2 linked regions of the Homo sapiens genome follow. The protein of the gene in region 1 interacts with the protein of each later gene in a pairwise test. Each region holds a gene or a part of one and is shown on either strand. Other genes may lie near its edges. The genes, in order: RHOBTB2 and RHOBTB3.

Evidence for each region.
Region 2: the proteins of RHOBTB2 (region 1) and RHOBTB3 interact in a two-hybrid assay, tested with the Homo sapiens proteins (one study listed by BioGRID).

What each region holds. Positions count from the first base shown.
Region 1 is NC_000008.11:22,995,078-23,002,852, reverse strand, and holds the start of RHOBTB2 (rho-related BTB domain-containing protein 2), read right to left. Parts: upstream 3,306-7,775; 5' UTR 2,748-3,305; intron 1-2,747. UniProt on the Homo sapiens protein: Regulator of cell proliferation and apoptosis. It likely functions as a substrate-adapter that recruits key substrates, e.g. MSI2, to CUL3-based ubiquitin ligase complexes for degradation. Required for MSI2 ubiquitination and degradation.
Region 2 is NC_000005.10:95,726,369-95,734,559, forward strand, and holds the start of RHOBTB3 (rho-related BTB domain-containing protein 3), read left to right. Parts: upstream 1-4,967; 5' UTR 4,968-5,314; coding exon 5,315-5,316; intron 5,317-5,324; exon of another isoform or gene 5,325-5,490; coding exon 5,491-5,716; exon of another isoform or gene 5,717-5,734; intron 5,735-8,191. UniProt on the Homo sapiens protein: Rab9-regulated ATPase required for endosome to Golgi transport. Involved in transport vesicle docking at the Golgi complex, possibly by participating in release M6PRBP1/TIP47 from vesicles to permit their efficient docking and fusion at the Golgi.

The sequences.
Region 1 (7,775 bases):
CAATGAGACAACCTCCTCCGCCTTTTTGGAATGTTACAGGATCTGGACCCTTCAACGAGGTCTCCATGCAGTGCCCTCATGGTCTCCAGGGCAACTGTACCACCCCTTCTCTCTCCTAACCCTCCCTCAGCAGACAACCGTTTTTTGTTTTTGTATTTTTTTGAGACGGAGTTTTGCGCTTGACACCCAGGCTGGAGTGCAGTGGCATGATCTCGGCTCACTGCAGCCTCTGCCTCCTGGGTTCAAGTGATTCTCCTGCCTCAGCCTCCCAGGTAGCTGGGATTACAGGTGTGTGCCACTATGCCGGCTAATTTTGTATTTTTAGTAGATACGGGGTTTCGCCATGTTGGTCAGGCTGGTCTTAAACTCCTGACCTCAAGTGATCTGCCCGCCTTGGCCTCCCAAAGTGCTGGGATTACAGGCGTGAGCCACCACACCTGGCCCAGAGAACTGTTAAGAACTGTTATTCTAACCACAGGCTTCCTCCTCCCAATTCTCTCTCCTGAACTGAGGACCGGGAACCCCACTTTGACAGTTCCTGATCTCAAGTTGAGGAATGTGCTGGCGCCAGGAGGCAGCATCTGGGCTGTGGTTTCTGTTTTGTCGAGTGAATACCAAAACAGATATAATCCCAAATACAAAATATGTGCAGCTGGAGGATAAAGATTAAAACCCAAGAGCCAAAAGAACTTCTTTCTCAAGTTCCGATTCTCCCAGCATGTAGGTCTGTAGACAGAAGCGGGGGAATGAGGAGGCCTAATGGAGGGATGCCAGTTCTCAAATTCAGGAGCACCTTGACAGTGAGAATAATGCCAGAACACCAGCAGAGCAGTGCTGGGCCAAGTTCAGCTACTTTGTGATGAAAACACTGCTGCCCACCTGTGCTATGTCACCTCTAGAGTTAAGCAGTGGTCAGCCAATCAACAAGTGGAAATTGACAAATACTGTGCCATGAGTTTAGACATCAGACCTTCTGGGTTGCGCAACCCCTTCCATCCATTCCCCAGCCCCTTCAGCAGTCCCCTTGTCCTTCAGCTGCCTCTCTGTTTGTATCATCTCACCCTTTCTACCCTGTCCCAACTGCCTGACTGGCAAACTTCACTGTCCTATCTAGGAAGAGGCAAGTCACTTATATTTTCTGGGCATCAGTCTCCCCCTCTGGGAAATGGGTATGAAGACATTGGAAGAGTCTCCTGAACCGTGGTTAATTTGTGCCAAGAGAGGCTGGGCTGAAAGGAGGTATTTGTCTTCTTATGTAATGTGGTATTATATAATGCTAGATTGCATATCTATATGTGTAATTATATCTGTCTTTAAGATACAGACTGGCCCAATTCAAGTGTTAGAACTCTTAGTCTAATCAGGCCTGTCTTAAAGGAGGATCCTGTCCTGGAGAGAGTGTGCCAAGAGTAATATAATTTTTGCCCTAGGATGTTGCTGATGTTGTATCATTGCTGATGTATGGTGATACAGCCCACTCATTGCTGATATATGGTGATACAGCCCATTCAGTGAGCCTCTCAGCTTCCCCTCTCCCTCCGGCTCTCTCTTCTTCCCTGACTCCAGACTCTCCCTCACAATTGCCTCATCCCCACTCAATCAACCTCCATAAACTATGACCTCCTCACCACCCAGCCCTGGGCATCACAACCCCCAACTCACTCCTCTTCCATGACAATCGCAAAGTCACTGGCATGTGTTCCTTCCATCCCTGTCCCATGATCCCTGTGCCCCTCCAAAAACAGCCTCCTGCCCACCGCTCTCCCAGCTCTTTGTACTTGGTGCAAGCCAAAACCCAAGGTGTGCTGAAATTAGCTACAAACCTCGTGCTCTCCCAGTCCCACCCCCACACCCCTACACACACTCTTTGCAGAGCTCAGAAAGGGCCCCTTTCCCTCCCACAGCTGATAGGAGGCTTGTTCATCTGTGGCTGCCCTAGTCTGGTTGTCAAGGAAACAACAGAATCTCCCTGGGAGCCTGGCTTGTCTCCTAGCAACCAGTATCCCACATCATCTTACAAAATGGGAATGGGAGGAAAATCCTGAAAATGAAGGTAAAATCAAGGGAGATGGATTGAATGGAGAATTGGAAGGAGAAGAACAAAGAGAGAGTGGACTCCTAATTCGGGGAGGCTCCCACGGGGGTCGCTGGCATTGCAAGAAGCCCCGTGCAGATCCAACAGAAAGCAAGGCCCAAAGGGACCCTGAATGGTCAGATTAAAGAAATGCAAGCCTAAACACAGATAAGCCCCCTCAAACCTAAAATGTGGACACATCACCAAACACCGCCAAAGATCTCCCCAGTAGTTTCACAGAACTCAGTTACATAGACTGCAATGGAGTTGAGTTCAAAGAACCAGCTCCGGAACCGCCAGCAAAACACCCCAATTCCACTGTTGTTTTGTGTTTGTTTTCTTAACAGAATCACTCCCACCACTCTGGACCGTTTTTCCTTTTTTCTGACACGCTACTCTGCACACACACAAAATAGAAATTTAAAAATTTTTAAACATCGAGAAGGGGGAGGGGCACGACAGGCCGAAGCAATCAAGTCATCTTCCTTTCCCTAGAAACACCGGAAAGGATTAGGCTCCAGCCCCGCTGTACCCAGCAGCCGAAGCCAGAGCCCAGGGACTAGCGGGGCCCGGGGAACGTAGCGAGGGGCGCGGCAGGGCAGGGAGGGCGGAGCGGCGCGTCTGCAAGGGCTGCTGGCCACCCCGCCATAACCGCAAGCAGCCATCTACTTACACCACTACATGTGACGGGGTGGCTTCTAGCGTGAGGAACACATCTCTTCCTGCTGAGCACGCTCATTTTAGTGAAATGTCAGGGGTCCCTCCGCGCCTGCAAGTTGGGACGACGCCGGCGCCGCCGCGCTGCTGCTGGGCTCCAGCCTCCCGGCCAGCTCGCGGCCACTCAGAAACTCCGGCAGGGCAGCCCAGGCCGGACGTGGGCCCAGGAGCGGACGCGCGCGCTGCACTGCAGCCGCTGCCCCTTCCGGATCAGCATCGCCCCGCGCGCCAGGCGCCCAATGTCACGGCGGCGCGCGGAGCCGGGCTGCGGAGGCAGCGGGCGGCGCGCAGGGGCGCCGGGAGAGGGGCGAGGCCGCCGCCGCTACGCGCCCGGGCCCGCGGCGAAGGCGCTGCCGCGAAGACGCCTGGCGCTGCAGTCCCAGGTACCGCTCGCGACCTCCTTTTTTCATTCACAAAAAAAGGATAGGGAAAAAAAAAAGAAAAGAAAAAAACGGGAGGGTAAAAAAAGGAGGAGAAAAAAATCGCACCCAAGACGACAGCCGTGACGGGCCCCGCCCACTGCCGCGCGCAGTTGGTGGAAAGCGTTCGGGGGGCGGGGAGGGGGCGGGCGGGGGAAGAAGGGGATTGGACGCCCCGCAGATCCCGCCTCGCAGCACCGCTCCCGCCCACCGCCCGCGCTCTTCCGCCCCTCCCGCAGCGACGCCGCGGGGAGGGTCTCGGCTCGCGGGTCTGGGTGGCGCCGGTCCCTCCACCTGGCGAGGCGCAAAGGCTCTCCGGACGCCCACGGGGTTTTCCCCTTTCCTTCGGGAGGCGGGGGAGAACCTCTGAGAGGCATCCTAGTGCACCCTGGAAGGGATGCTAGTTGGAGGAGAACGTGTGGTTGTAAGCCCAGGCCCCCACCACTTGCCCACGGGGAGGCGACGGCAGGGGCAGTCGGGGGGGCGGGGGGCGGGGGCCGGGTAGGGACGAATAACCGGCGTTTCCATACAAGCCCTCTGCTGCTTTGGGAATTTTCGTGGCACTTGAGAGCCTTCCTCCCTCCATGGCCCTTAATGAGTTGTGGGGTGGGTACCTGTACCACGTTACCTGTCTCCCACCTAGGCCTTCTTCAGCGGGTCCCCACCTCCATCCCATCCCCCTCCTGTTGCCTCCTGGAGTTCAGTAATAGCTGCTAATCTCTGAAAGAAACACCATGAAGTGAGTAGCCTCGAAAATCGTCCCTAAGCCTTCTTTGGGTTTTCTGCCTCAATTTACCCCTCTGTAAAATAGAGAGATTCTAAGGTATAACATCTATAACCTGAGGGGTCCCTAGAAGACACTTTCCATATTCAAGGCTGGTTTTATCAGGATAATCTTTTTTTTTTTTTTTTTTTTTTGAGTCTCCCTCTGTTGCCCAGGCTGGAGTGCAGTGGTGCAATCTTGGTTCACTGCAACCTCCGCCTCTTGGGTTCAAGCAGTTCTGCCTCAGCCTCCCGAGTAGCTGGGACTACAAGTGCACGCCACTATTCCCAGCTAATTTATGTATTTTTGGTAGAGACGGGGTTTCACCACCTTGGCCAGGCTGGTCTCGAACTCCTGACCTCGGGTGATCTGCCTGCCTTGGCCTCCCAAAGTACTAGGATTACAGGCGTGAGCCACCATGCCCAGCCAGGATGATCTTGACTGCTAGTGTTAAGTAGTCAGCTCAGTCTGGTTTGATTCATCTCCTCAGTTACCTCTGGACAATTTTTAAAGCCCAGACCAGCCTGCCACCCACCTGAACCGCCTCCACCACTCCTCCATCTTGTGCTCTGAAAATGCAAATCCACTCTAATATTAGTTTATGCAAAATATGATTAGGAAGAGAAATTTACTGCCAAAAGAAAGCCGGGTTAAAAATGAATTTTGTGTTGTCTGAAGCATGCTTCTCATCTGTGAATGCATATACTTGGAAGCTGTCCCTCAAGGTGTTTGTGATCAACGTGCCTACCTACCTGGTCAATGTACAGGAAGTGCTCGGTTGTTGGAGGATGCTTCTCCCACCCCTTTCTCAATCTACTCAGAGCTAGCCAAGAGGTTAACAATGACTGACAGTGCTACTTACTTCTCATTTCTGGTTAGAACTCACCCTCCATAAACCAGAAAGTACTTATTTGAATACATATTTAGGAGAGAAAGTAAACCATGCTCACACATGTTCTTCCTCCACATGTTTGGCATTGAAGAGACTTACCCCATCTTCTGTGTGCCAAAGAGCCCCTGCGCCAGAGAAAATCATAACTTGAGATCTCTGCATGATTCCCACGGCAGGCCAGGGTCTCTCCCACGGACACCCTGTTCCCTCCACCCACCTCCAGAGACCAGCTGAATGCCAGATGCCAGTTGACATCACCTTTCACCTGTCCTGGCAGGACCATAGCCCCTGTGGAGCAAGGAGTAGGAAGACAGAACTCCCGTCCACCCAAAGTCATGAAGCAGGAGAGGGTGGCTGCTCGGACTGTAAGCTAGAGCCAATGCCCTTTCTGCCTTGGGAGAAAAAGCCAGCTCAGCCTGGAAGCCTCAACCAGGCTGGACTGTGTGAATTCCAAGGTGTAGTGTTGATTGGGGTGGAAGGGTCTTGGACAAAAATGTGGGTGTCAAATGAAATTGCACCCCCACAGCCCCCGCCCCGCCCCGCTCACACTCAGTGAACTGTTTCAGGCAGAGGCAGGAGCTTTGCTGGGGAGGTTCCCTCAATTCCCAGCCCTGCTTTTTGCATGCAGTTCCCTCTTTCAGCCTTTCTCCAAATCAAAGTCCTTCCCCATCATTTCACCTCTAGGGCTGTCATGGTTGGCGCCCCAATCAGTTCCCTCTTATCATCAGAGTTCCTCCAAGTCCCCACCTTCTCCTACCAGTGCCCCCCAGCCCATCCTCTGCAGCCCCTTGTCACTGTCAAGCCGCCCCATCCATGTCCCACCCTAGGCCGTCTGGGGACCTCTGCAGACCTCCTCCTCAGGCCAGCCTGCGAGGAGCTCCAGCGGTTCACTACTCACAGCTCAGATGGCAGCATTCCCCACGCTGTATGAGGGGCAGACCACTAGCAAGCTGCAGCCGCCGGCCTGTGCCCCAGTTGTGGCTAAAACCAGGCCTCTTCCCAGCCAGCCCTGGCCAGGACTGCCCCGGGACCCCCACTCTGCTATTCAAGACAGCCTCCAGCCCCTGGTACCCCAGCTGAGGATCTGGCACGTCCCTTCATCTTTGCCCATCTCTCCAATGCCAGATCCTGGAAAACAGGGCCACTCCCAGAGGCCAGGCTTCCCCACCAGCAAGCAAGGTGCTGTTGGGCCTTCTCATGCCCATCCCTGTCCCCAGCTGTTAGCACCCGGCAGGCAGCAGCGTCTCACAGCACAGGAAGCCTCCCACTCCCTTCACTGCGCCCTCCCACCCCAGGCCCTGAGGAGTCCATTTTCCTCTATTCAGGTGACTTCTCAAGGCAGGCCTGGGTGGGAGACAAAAGCTCCTGGCCTCTTTCTTTCTCTGCCTCCTCCATTCCGTTACATACACAGACACACAGACACACACACACACACACACACACACACACACACACACACACACACACACACACACACACACACACACACACCAGCCCTCTCTGCCCATTTGCTGCAGCTTGGAAACACTGGTGTGATTCCGAGGAGCAGTTCAGCCTGAGCACTGACTCCCCCCATTGCTGGCTTCCCAAATCTGCTTCTGCTGGTGGGTCTGGCAATGTCCTGCCATGTGCCTGGCTGCGTGGCTGTAGCCCAAGGGCTTCCTGGCAGCATGGAGGCAGGTTCCATTCTACAATCTCCTGCCCCTGCCCAACCCCAGCATCTCTTCCCTCACCAAATCCCTCTTGTGACCCACCTCCCCAGTGACATAAACCCCTGGAACCTGTCCCCAGAAGGCACCCCCTCTATGCCTCCCCACACCACCCTCCTCCAGGCCATCACGCGGCTGCTGTTTTCCTGAAGCCGGGCAGATGCCTGCCTGTGAACAGGAGGCTTTTCTGGGGAAAGAGAAACCTCCATCCTGGCTCTTAGCAAAGCGCAGCAGGCTCCCCGGCCAGTCCCACCAGCGTTGCTCTCCCTGTGGCTGTGAAGGCCCCTTCCCAGTGCCAGCCCAACGCAGACCGCCTGGCTCAGTCCATCCTCCAACCTGCACCTTCCCTTTGCTTCACAGGCAGCTTTACCCTTCAACACTTTGCAGGCTACTAACCGCGCTTTCATGGCACCCCTCTCCTGGAACACTACAGCCTCTGCGGAGCCCACCCCATGGGCCTTGTGACATGAGCTCCGCCCCCCATCCCCTGCCATGTGCAGGCTGGGGCACGTGGTGTTCCTACCCTGCAGCTGGGGCAAAGTTCAGAACCAGCCATGAGCAAAAGCAGAGGCATTTCAAGATGCAGAGCCCCAGCAGGGTGAAGGAGCTGAATCTGGAAAGCCTAGAGTCTCTCAGCCTCCCTGTCCAGGCCTTAAGGGACACCATCAGGTCCCCACAAGGATACAGGAAGCTTCTGGGACTTTGCACAAGCAGTTCTTCAGTCCGAACACTCTATTTCTACTCCTTTCACCAGATAAATGTGTACTCATCTTTCAAGTCTCAGCCTAGATATCACTTCCTCCAGCAAGCCTTCCATGAATACTTTCTTACACTTGACAAAGTGTAACTTTCCTGTTCTTCCCCTGTGCTCCCCTAATAATACCAATCACACCAATCTATCATTGGGTTCTTCTCTGTCCTTGATTGTACTGAGAACTCCCTGGGACCGGCAGGGGAGCTTTCGTAAGAGCCAGGATGCAGATTTCTCTTTCCTCAGACAAGGTTCCTGCTCACAGGCCAGGAAGCAACACTATAATGCTTGTTCAGGCCGGGTGTGGTGGCTTATGCCTGTAATCTCAACACTTTGGGAGGCCGAGCTGAGAGAATAGCTTGAGGTTAGGAGTTGGAGACCAGCCTGGGCAATATAATAAGACCCTGTCTCTATTAAAAAAAATTTTTAAAAAAGATAATGCCTATTCGA
Region 2 (8,191 bases), on another chromosome or scaffold:
GAAGTATTGACTTGTATATAGTACACTACTTAAACATGCTAGAAACTTTATTGAATTCGCCTTCAATACTTTGGTGTTTAGTTTTTAAGTTGCTAGCTAATTGTAATCAGTTCAGAATATCATTGTCTATTAACTATAATATGCACTTAGGGTGAAATCAATGTTAGCAAGAATGGTTGTAAATTCATACTTAAAACAGTGTTCTTTATAATCCATTATTTTGGTCAACTTCTTGGCAAATCTGATTAGTCGTCGGTTTTTTACCTTGCAATGTGGCTCCCAAAGAGTATCAGAAACATCAGCTTGGCTGGGGGTTTTTGCTTGTGCTTGCATTTTTAACACTGTCTCCCTTGGTTCCTGCTGTAACAGTAGTTTACTTAAATATCATTCATAAGTCTCCTTAGAAACAGAAACTGCAACATGTGGCAATATATTGAAAGTGAACAAAGGAGGCAGCCCTCCCGCTGCCCCTCACTGTGTATCCTATTGCTGCCATGCCCCCAACACTCCTTGTATCTGCCCACTTACTGGTCAACCTGGGGTACCAGCATCAATCCCAACATTAACTAGTAGTAAAGCTTAATTTCGTTTCCCCCCTTTTTTTTTTCAGTAAAAAATAATGTGTGTGATTAGAAGTTTATTCTGGAATTTCAGGGATCATCTTCTGTACCCCACCTTGAAGACTCTGGCTCTAGATAAGTAGTCTTAAAAATTGCGTTTGTTTTTAACCTTAGAAAACCCATCTTTTTAATGAAAATGAATATGAAACTTTAATATTTTTTTAAAAGACAGCAATAAGACTGCTCTGATTGGCTTTAAGATGCCTTTGTCAGAGTTCAGATCTCACTGCTTACTCTTTTTCTGCCACCTCCTCAAGCTGATTTGAAGATTCTTCTATGCAAACCTAGTTTTCCTTAAAACATAGTTGGAAAAAATCTTCTGCCAAGCCGAGATCTCTAGGCCTGCCCTCACCAATGCTTACTTCCTCTCCAGCTGTTAAGGAACCAACACGTTTTTCAAAAACTGGTATATGAATATTCACAATTTGGGGACTAGTAATAGCCCACTGAATTACTTTACATGTCCTTACTGTACTTTATGCTACATCTTATTTAGGGATAAAAACATCTAATAGAGTAAATATGAAATGGTGGCATTTCAGCCACTAAAATAGGAAAAAAATATTGTTTGGGTTGGAAGCCCTTCCTGTGTGTTCCCCAGTGACCTTGAGGTTGGAGGACATGTGATATCTGTTCTGTTAACACTGGTAAAATAAAATTTTTTAAATGTGCTGATGAGAGAAACTGCAAATACATAAACCAAATAAAAATTTAAAATACAAGGGAAATAACTTTAAAAAAGTGGTCATAAGAAAATTATGAAAAGATCTTTAGGATATCAGGAAATGGACCATCTGTGATATTCTTTTAGCCAAGATAAATAACACTAACTGCTGTAATAATTGACCTCAAAATGTCTGGCTCAACTCACTGAATATCTATTTATCACTCAAATCACAGTACAATGCATTCTGTGAGGAGGCTCTGCTGTAACTAGTCATTCAAGGACTGGTTCCACACTGCAGTGCTAATAGCTTCAAACACCTGGCTTCAAGGTTGACCTGACTTCATGTGGTTGAGACAGGAAGATAAAAGAGAATGGAGAGACACACTTCTCTACTGCTCAGCAGGGATCATATTCCGTTGATGAGAACTAATCATGTGGCCCTACCTATATGCACAAAAGTTGAGAAACGTCATTTAGCTATCTTGGAAGAGAAAACAGGTTTGGTGAGTATGTAGCCAGGCTTTGTACCAGATACTCAATTTGTAGCTTAAGTATCACCAGGTATGACTCCAGAAATCTCTTGGGAAGCCTCCACCACTCTTTTTTCTGCCTGCTTTAATATAGAAACCTTCATGCCAGCACTAACTTCATCTCTTGCTGTTCCTAAGACAAGCCATGATCTTCCATTTCTTTATACCTTTGCATGTGATGTCTGTCCAGTTCTTTGAAATACTCCTTCCCTTCTAACCTCCTCTTCTTCCAAATCTAACAAATTCTTAATCTATTAAGACCTAAGACAATGTTTACTTTCTTTATGAACTTCTGACACAGAAAGCACAGATCTCTTCCTAACATTCACTGAACTTATCTTTTACTTTGTACCTATCTCTTTTACTGACTGCCTTTGTACCTATCTCTTTTACTGACTGCCTAGGCCTAGGTCTAGGAACTAGAATGTTTTCAAAAGGATTGAGTGTGCTAATATTCACAAACTAATTAATATGTCAGAGGGGTCTGAACCAGAATGACTCCATCTTGAGTAGAGGCTGGGTACACTAAGGCTGAAACCTACTGGGCTGCATTCCTAGGAGGTTAGGCATTCTTAGCCACAGGATGAGATAGGAGGTCAGCACAGGATACAGGTCACAAAGACCTTGCTGATAAAACAGAATGCCGTAAAGAAGCCGGCCAAAACCCACCAAAACCAAGATGGTGGTGACAGTGACCTCTGGTCAACCTCACTGCTCATTATATGCTAATTATAATGCACTAGCATGCTAAAAGACACTCCACCAGCACAATGAGTCTACAAATGTCACGGCAATGTCAGGAAGTTACCCTATATGGTCTAAAAAGCAGAGGAACTCTCAGTTCTGGGAAATGCCCACCCTTTCCAGAAAAACTCATGAATAATCCACCCCTTGTTTAGCATATAATCAAGAAATAACTATAAGTATACTCAGTCGAGCAGCCCATGACACTGCTCTGCCTATGGAGTAGCCATTATTTTATTCCTTTACTTTCTTAATAAACTGGCTTTCACTTTATGGACTTGCCCTGAATTCTTCGCTGGAGGTCCAAGAACTCTCTTTTGGAGTCAGGATTGGGACCCCTTTCTGGTAACAAATTGCTTTAGCTTCTTAAGGTCAATGACCAAGTCTTATGTACCTTGGGATCTCCTATGCCTACCCAGCACAGGCTTGGCTCACCTATTGAGTAACTAAGGAAAAAATGAATACTTTCTCCCTTTCTGACACTTCCAAGTTGTCAGCAACTTTGGTGTCTATTTTTGTTTCATTTTTGTATTAATATTTTTATATTGTCATAAAATATAACAATAGTTACCATGTTAATCATGTTCTAGTGTTCAGTACACGCTCTAGTGTTTAGTTAACAATGTTCTAGCGTTCAGTTCTATAGTTCAGTATAGTACGAACTATATATGCACCTCATGCAACAGATCTCTGTAACTTTTTCTTCCTGCAAACCTGAAACACTATACCTGTTGAACAACGCCCCCTTTTCCCCTCTCCCCAGCCCCTGGTAACCATGATTCTACTTTCTGTTTCTAAGAGTTTGACTACTTTAGATACTTCATATAAATGGAATCACTTTTTGTGATTTGCAACTGGCTGATTCCACTTAGCACAAGGTCCTCAAGGTTCATCCATGTTGTAGTTTATGAAGGAATTTTCTTCTTTTTTAAACGCTAATCATCCATTACATGTGTATACCACATTTTCTTTATCCATTCATCCATTCTAGTGTCTTTGTTTTTGACTTATGGGTTTCCGGAAAAGACTGATGAGAAAATATATTTTCTATTAACCCAAGAGAAAAAGTGATCTTGCATGCTGGAATTTTTAAGGATGGTTTAGGTTCTAGAGACTCAAAGAGAAATCGTAGAAAATGCAAAGGGAAATTAGATTAAAAAAAAAAACAGTGACCACATAAAGAATATCTCCCATTATATCCTCTCTGAGCACGAGAAACTATTAAACTACTTTCAACCGAGCAATAAGGGCCCATAATAAAAAGCTGTTGCCCTAGTTTTTTTACTGCCCTACTCAATACCCCCTCTTTCATACCCTCAAAATAGCTCAGCTGAGAAAAGAAACAGTCCAATTTTACAGAAGGGAAAAATAAACAGATAAAAGGATAAGCAAGAACTCTTTTCAACACAGAGTAAGGTACTGGTTAGAATTTTAATACTGTATGGAGGAGTCTAACCCCAGAGTAATCCCTGGCCCATTTTGGTGTTAGTAAGTGGATCCCAGTGTTCGTTTGTATCGAGGTAGTTTGAAGCACGTTAGGGATATTCATAGCCTTTACTTCAGTGCATTATTATGAAAGAATCTAAAGTATCTTTGCATTTACGTGATTATGTTTTCAGTTGGTCTGCGGAGCTATTATTAAATATGTGGCCATAACGTGTACAGAAAAATCTCCAAGTAAACTGGCATTTAACTTACCAACACGTTAAACCCCCATACATAACTTCCTTTAAAAACGATCACACTAAAAATCCCAGCATTTAAAATCCTGAAGTTTTCGGTAAAATACGCTAAATATAGCTTGAAATAGTAAATAATCCCCCCAAGGCGACATTAGCAAATTAATTGGTGTGTGAACAAAGAACTCTTTCTGCAGCAGCATGAATGTTGCCTTTATTTTTTCTCACAAGTATGATTTTAGAAAACAGCTGTAGCGCATGTTGACAAATGAGAAAGCGGCAGACGTGGTAAAGCACTTTCGGTCAAGGCCAAGAGGGGGGGAAATCGGGTTGCTGGGGCGGCACTCGGGCTGGAATCCCTAGCTTCCCTAACCTCCTTTTTCCAGTCCGGAGTGAGCGGGGGCCCCATCGCCCCACCCCCCTTTCCTGGCTCTGGTTACGGCCTTGCGAGTTGAACAAACTTGCTGCAGGCGGATTGGCGGCTGGGAGCTCTCGGGCTGGGGCGTTGTATTTATTAATTTATATTCCGCGGCGCCCCGCGCGGGCGGCTCCTTTGTGTCCAGCCGCCGCCACCGGAGCTCCCGGGGCCTCCGCGGGGAGCGCGTCCCCCGCATCCGCCCGACCCCCGGGGCTGGCACGTGCTGCGCCCGGTCCGCTGAGGGGGCGGAGGCCCCGATCTCCCCGACCCCCCTTCTCTGCTTAGAGGAGGAGGAGCAGCGGCAGCGGCAGCAGGAGGCGACAGCTGCCAGCCGAGGAGGCGCGGCGGAGAGGGGACTGCGGTCAGCTGCGTCCACTTGGGGCTGTGCGGCGGTCCCGCGCCCGGCGATGTTCCCGGGCACTCCCTGAGTAGCGGCAGCTTATCCCCCGCCCGCTAGCCCGCCCTGGTCCCCGGCTCGCTCGCTGGCTGGCGCGGCCCCGGCCCCGCTCTGCGTCGGCCCCGCCGCGGTGGAGGCGCGCGAGGGGGACGCGGCCGGGGATGAGCGGATTGCGGGTGAACTCGCCGCCCGGGGGCCCCGCGAAGCCGTGAGCCGCTGCTTTTCTCCGAGTCGCCGCCCTGCCCTTGGATTTGAGATCATGTACGTACGCGCCGCCGTCCTGCCATTGTCTCTCTCCAGCGCGTGCCGTGCGCCCCAGGGACAGGGGCTGGTGCCCATCCTCGCCGCGCGCTGTCCCCCGCACTTCCTGTTCCGAGGAGAGACCCGCGCGCTGACCGTGCTTCCCTTCTCCCCTCGCCCCCTCTGTCCGTGCAGGTCCATCCACATCGTGGCGCTGGGGAACGAGGGGGACACATTCCACCAGGACAACCGGCCGTCGGGGCTTATCCGCACTTACCTGGGGAGAAGCCCTCTGGTCTCCGGGGACGAGAGCAGCTTGTTGCTGAACGCGGCCAGCACGGTCGCGCGTCCGGTGTTCACCGAGTATCAGGCCAGTGCGTTTGGGAATGTCAAGCTGGTGGTCCACGACTGTCCCGTCTGGGTAAGGAAGAGCAGCTGCTCCGCGCTGAGGCTGAAGAAGCTTTTCTTTCCTTTTTTTTCCCCCTCCCCCTTCTGCCCACTTCCGTGAGTGTGGAGTGTCCGCGTTACATGGGTCAAATTTTTAAACATTTTTGAGAAAATCTTTGGTCCTTTGTTTCACTGGGCAGGGAACAGCCCTGTCAGAGAACACTCTTAGGAAGATAGAAGGCCCCAGTGGGAATGTGGAGCACTTACTGGTACACTTCACGACTGTGGGTTGACCCTTGGTAGGCAGCAGACAGTTGAATGTGCCAACTCCAAGGGACGGGGTCACTAAGTTTCATCAGCAAAAAGCAGTGTTTTTTTATGTCTACCCTATGGGTGATAGTGTAATATTGGTGTTCTAAAAATACATCCCTCTCAAAGCTCAACACAGGCAAAAATACTTTTCACTGGGACAGTTCAGAAATAGTTCCTCTGGAAAGCGGAGGAAAAGACAGGGACTGGGAGTTAATTTTAAATGACTCATTTATAGCACTATTAATTGATCTCTGAAAACTTAATTTTAATAATGCAAATACTCTTTATGTGTTAGCCATTTGTCTTAGTGACTCATAAATCAGAAATAACATTACTAATGTTGTTTGGAAAACTTTTAAAAAATTAAAATTTGTAATAATTGAACAAAATAGTAGTGAAGTGGATAAATTATAGTCCGATTCTTGAGTGTTTGATTAAGGGAGAAAGGAACTTACTTTCTGACACATATAAATATTTTCAGCATACAATAACATTATGTTTGAATGTTTTCCTTTAGTCTTATTTGAAAATCTTTGATTCTTTACTGATATTGGAGTTACGTATGTTTCAGCTAAATGTTACATTTAATAACAGAAGAAAGTTTAGTGCCTGAAAAGATACAAATTATCGTTGTGTAAGATTTCACATTTAAACAGCAATATTAAAAAAACTGAATTAGGACTATAGGAAAGTATCACGCCATTCTAAAAAATGTGTAGAATATACTTGGAAAAATTTCTTATGCAAAGTTCCACATAACAGAACGAAAAGATCACTCGCTCGTGTAAGTTTTCAGTTAAAGAAGAAAGTTATGTTAATTTGGTAAAATAAAAAACAGGCCTTTTCAATTAAGAGATACTATTAAACCCCTAGTTATGATAGTGATGATGCTGTTCATAAGAAGTATTGATGGAGAACTTACTGGTCAGAGTCTATGCAGGCAAATGAAACACTTCTTTTACTTGGGATCTTTCGTTGTGAAAGATCTTACAGCCTAAAAACATGACGGTTCAACATGCAGTTGAATAAATGTTTAGCGAATCGAGTAAATGTAGGGAAAATAAAACTAGCTACATTAGGATGTTAGGATTGCTTTCCCGTATTTAATTTGAGCTGTTAACACTTTCCTGTTTATACTGTTAATTTTGCAAACAGTAATGCTTGTGATCCCATACACTTTGTCTAGTAAAATGAAATCTTCCAAATGGAGAAAATAAACCTCTATAGTACGGATTTTTGCCATATGCTGGTTGTTATGGTTTATCTTGCTAATAACTTTTTGTTTGGTTAGACTCTGGCCCTATTTAAGGCACCAAGTTTGTAACCAGGTACAATTTTCTAGGTTATAATGATCTTCAGATATGAGATTCCATTTCTAGAGTTGCTCTTTATAAGGTGCTTTTCTTCACTTGGTGGTAAGTAAAGCCCATCAGAGATTCTAAAGCTGATTGCATTAATCAACTGTTATTTGACGTATGTACGGAACCAGAATATTAAATATAGCAGAGCAGATAGAGCATAGCCTTTGATATCAAAAGGATCTGATTTCAGATTCCCACATTGCCATTTCAGGTCTGTGTGTCCTTGTTAAATCACTTACCTTCTCTCAGCCTTATTTTCCCTATCTATAAAATAATATGCCTCCTAAAGCTGTGCTGAGAAGTGAATGAGAAACTAGCACGTGTCAAGTTCTAAGTATAGAGGCTGGCATTTAGTAGATGCTCTATAAGTGGTAGCTAATATAAAAATAAAGTGTTACAACTTTAGTTATGTATCACTTATATTAATACTAAGCAAAAGTAAGATTTTCACAGGTCATTCAAGATTTATACAACTACAGTACCAGTACACTGGGGCAGCGATGTTCATACTTCATACATGCAGCCCCACAATCAAGTAAAATAAAATAGTTTCACTGTAGAAATTCAGATTTTTTTTTTTAAAAGATGAGTTCAATTCTCCAAATGTGGCTCCAAGCCTTGTGTTGCATAACCCCGAGAGGAAACCCTGGAACTGATTTACAAGGGGTGGGAGAATTTGATTTTCTTCATAATTCTAGAAATCTTTGGAGTATTTTCTCTTTGGCATAGTTTGAGAAGAGATGTGTTGTTGTTGCCTTGAAGTTGAAATGAGGTAGCTGTGTTTCCCTTCCCTAGTTCTCTTCTATAGATCCTTAGCCTTACCCTGGATCCTTGCC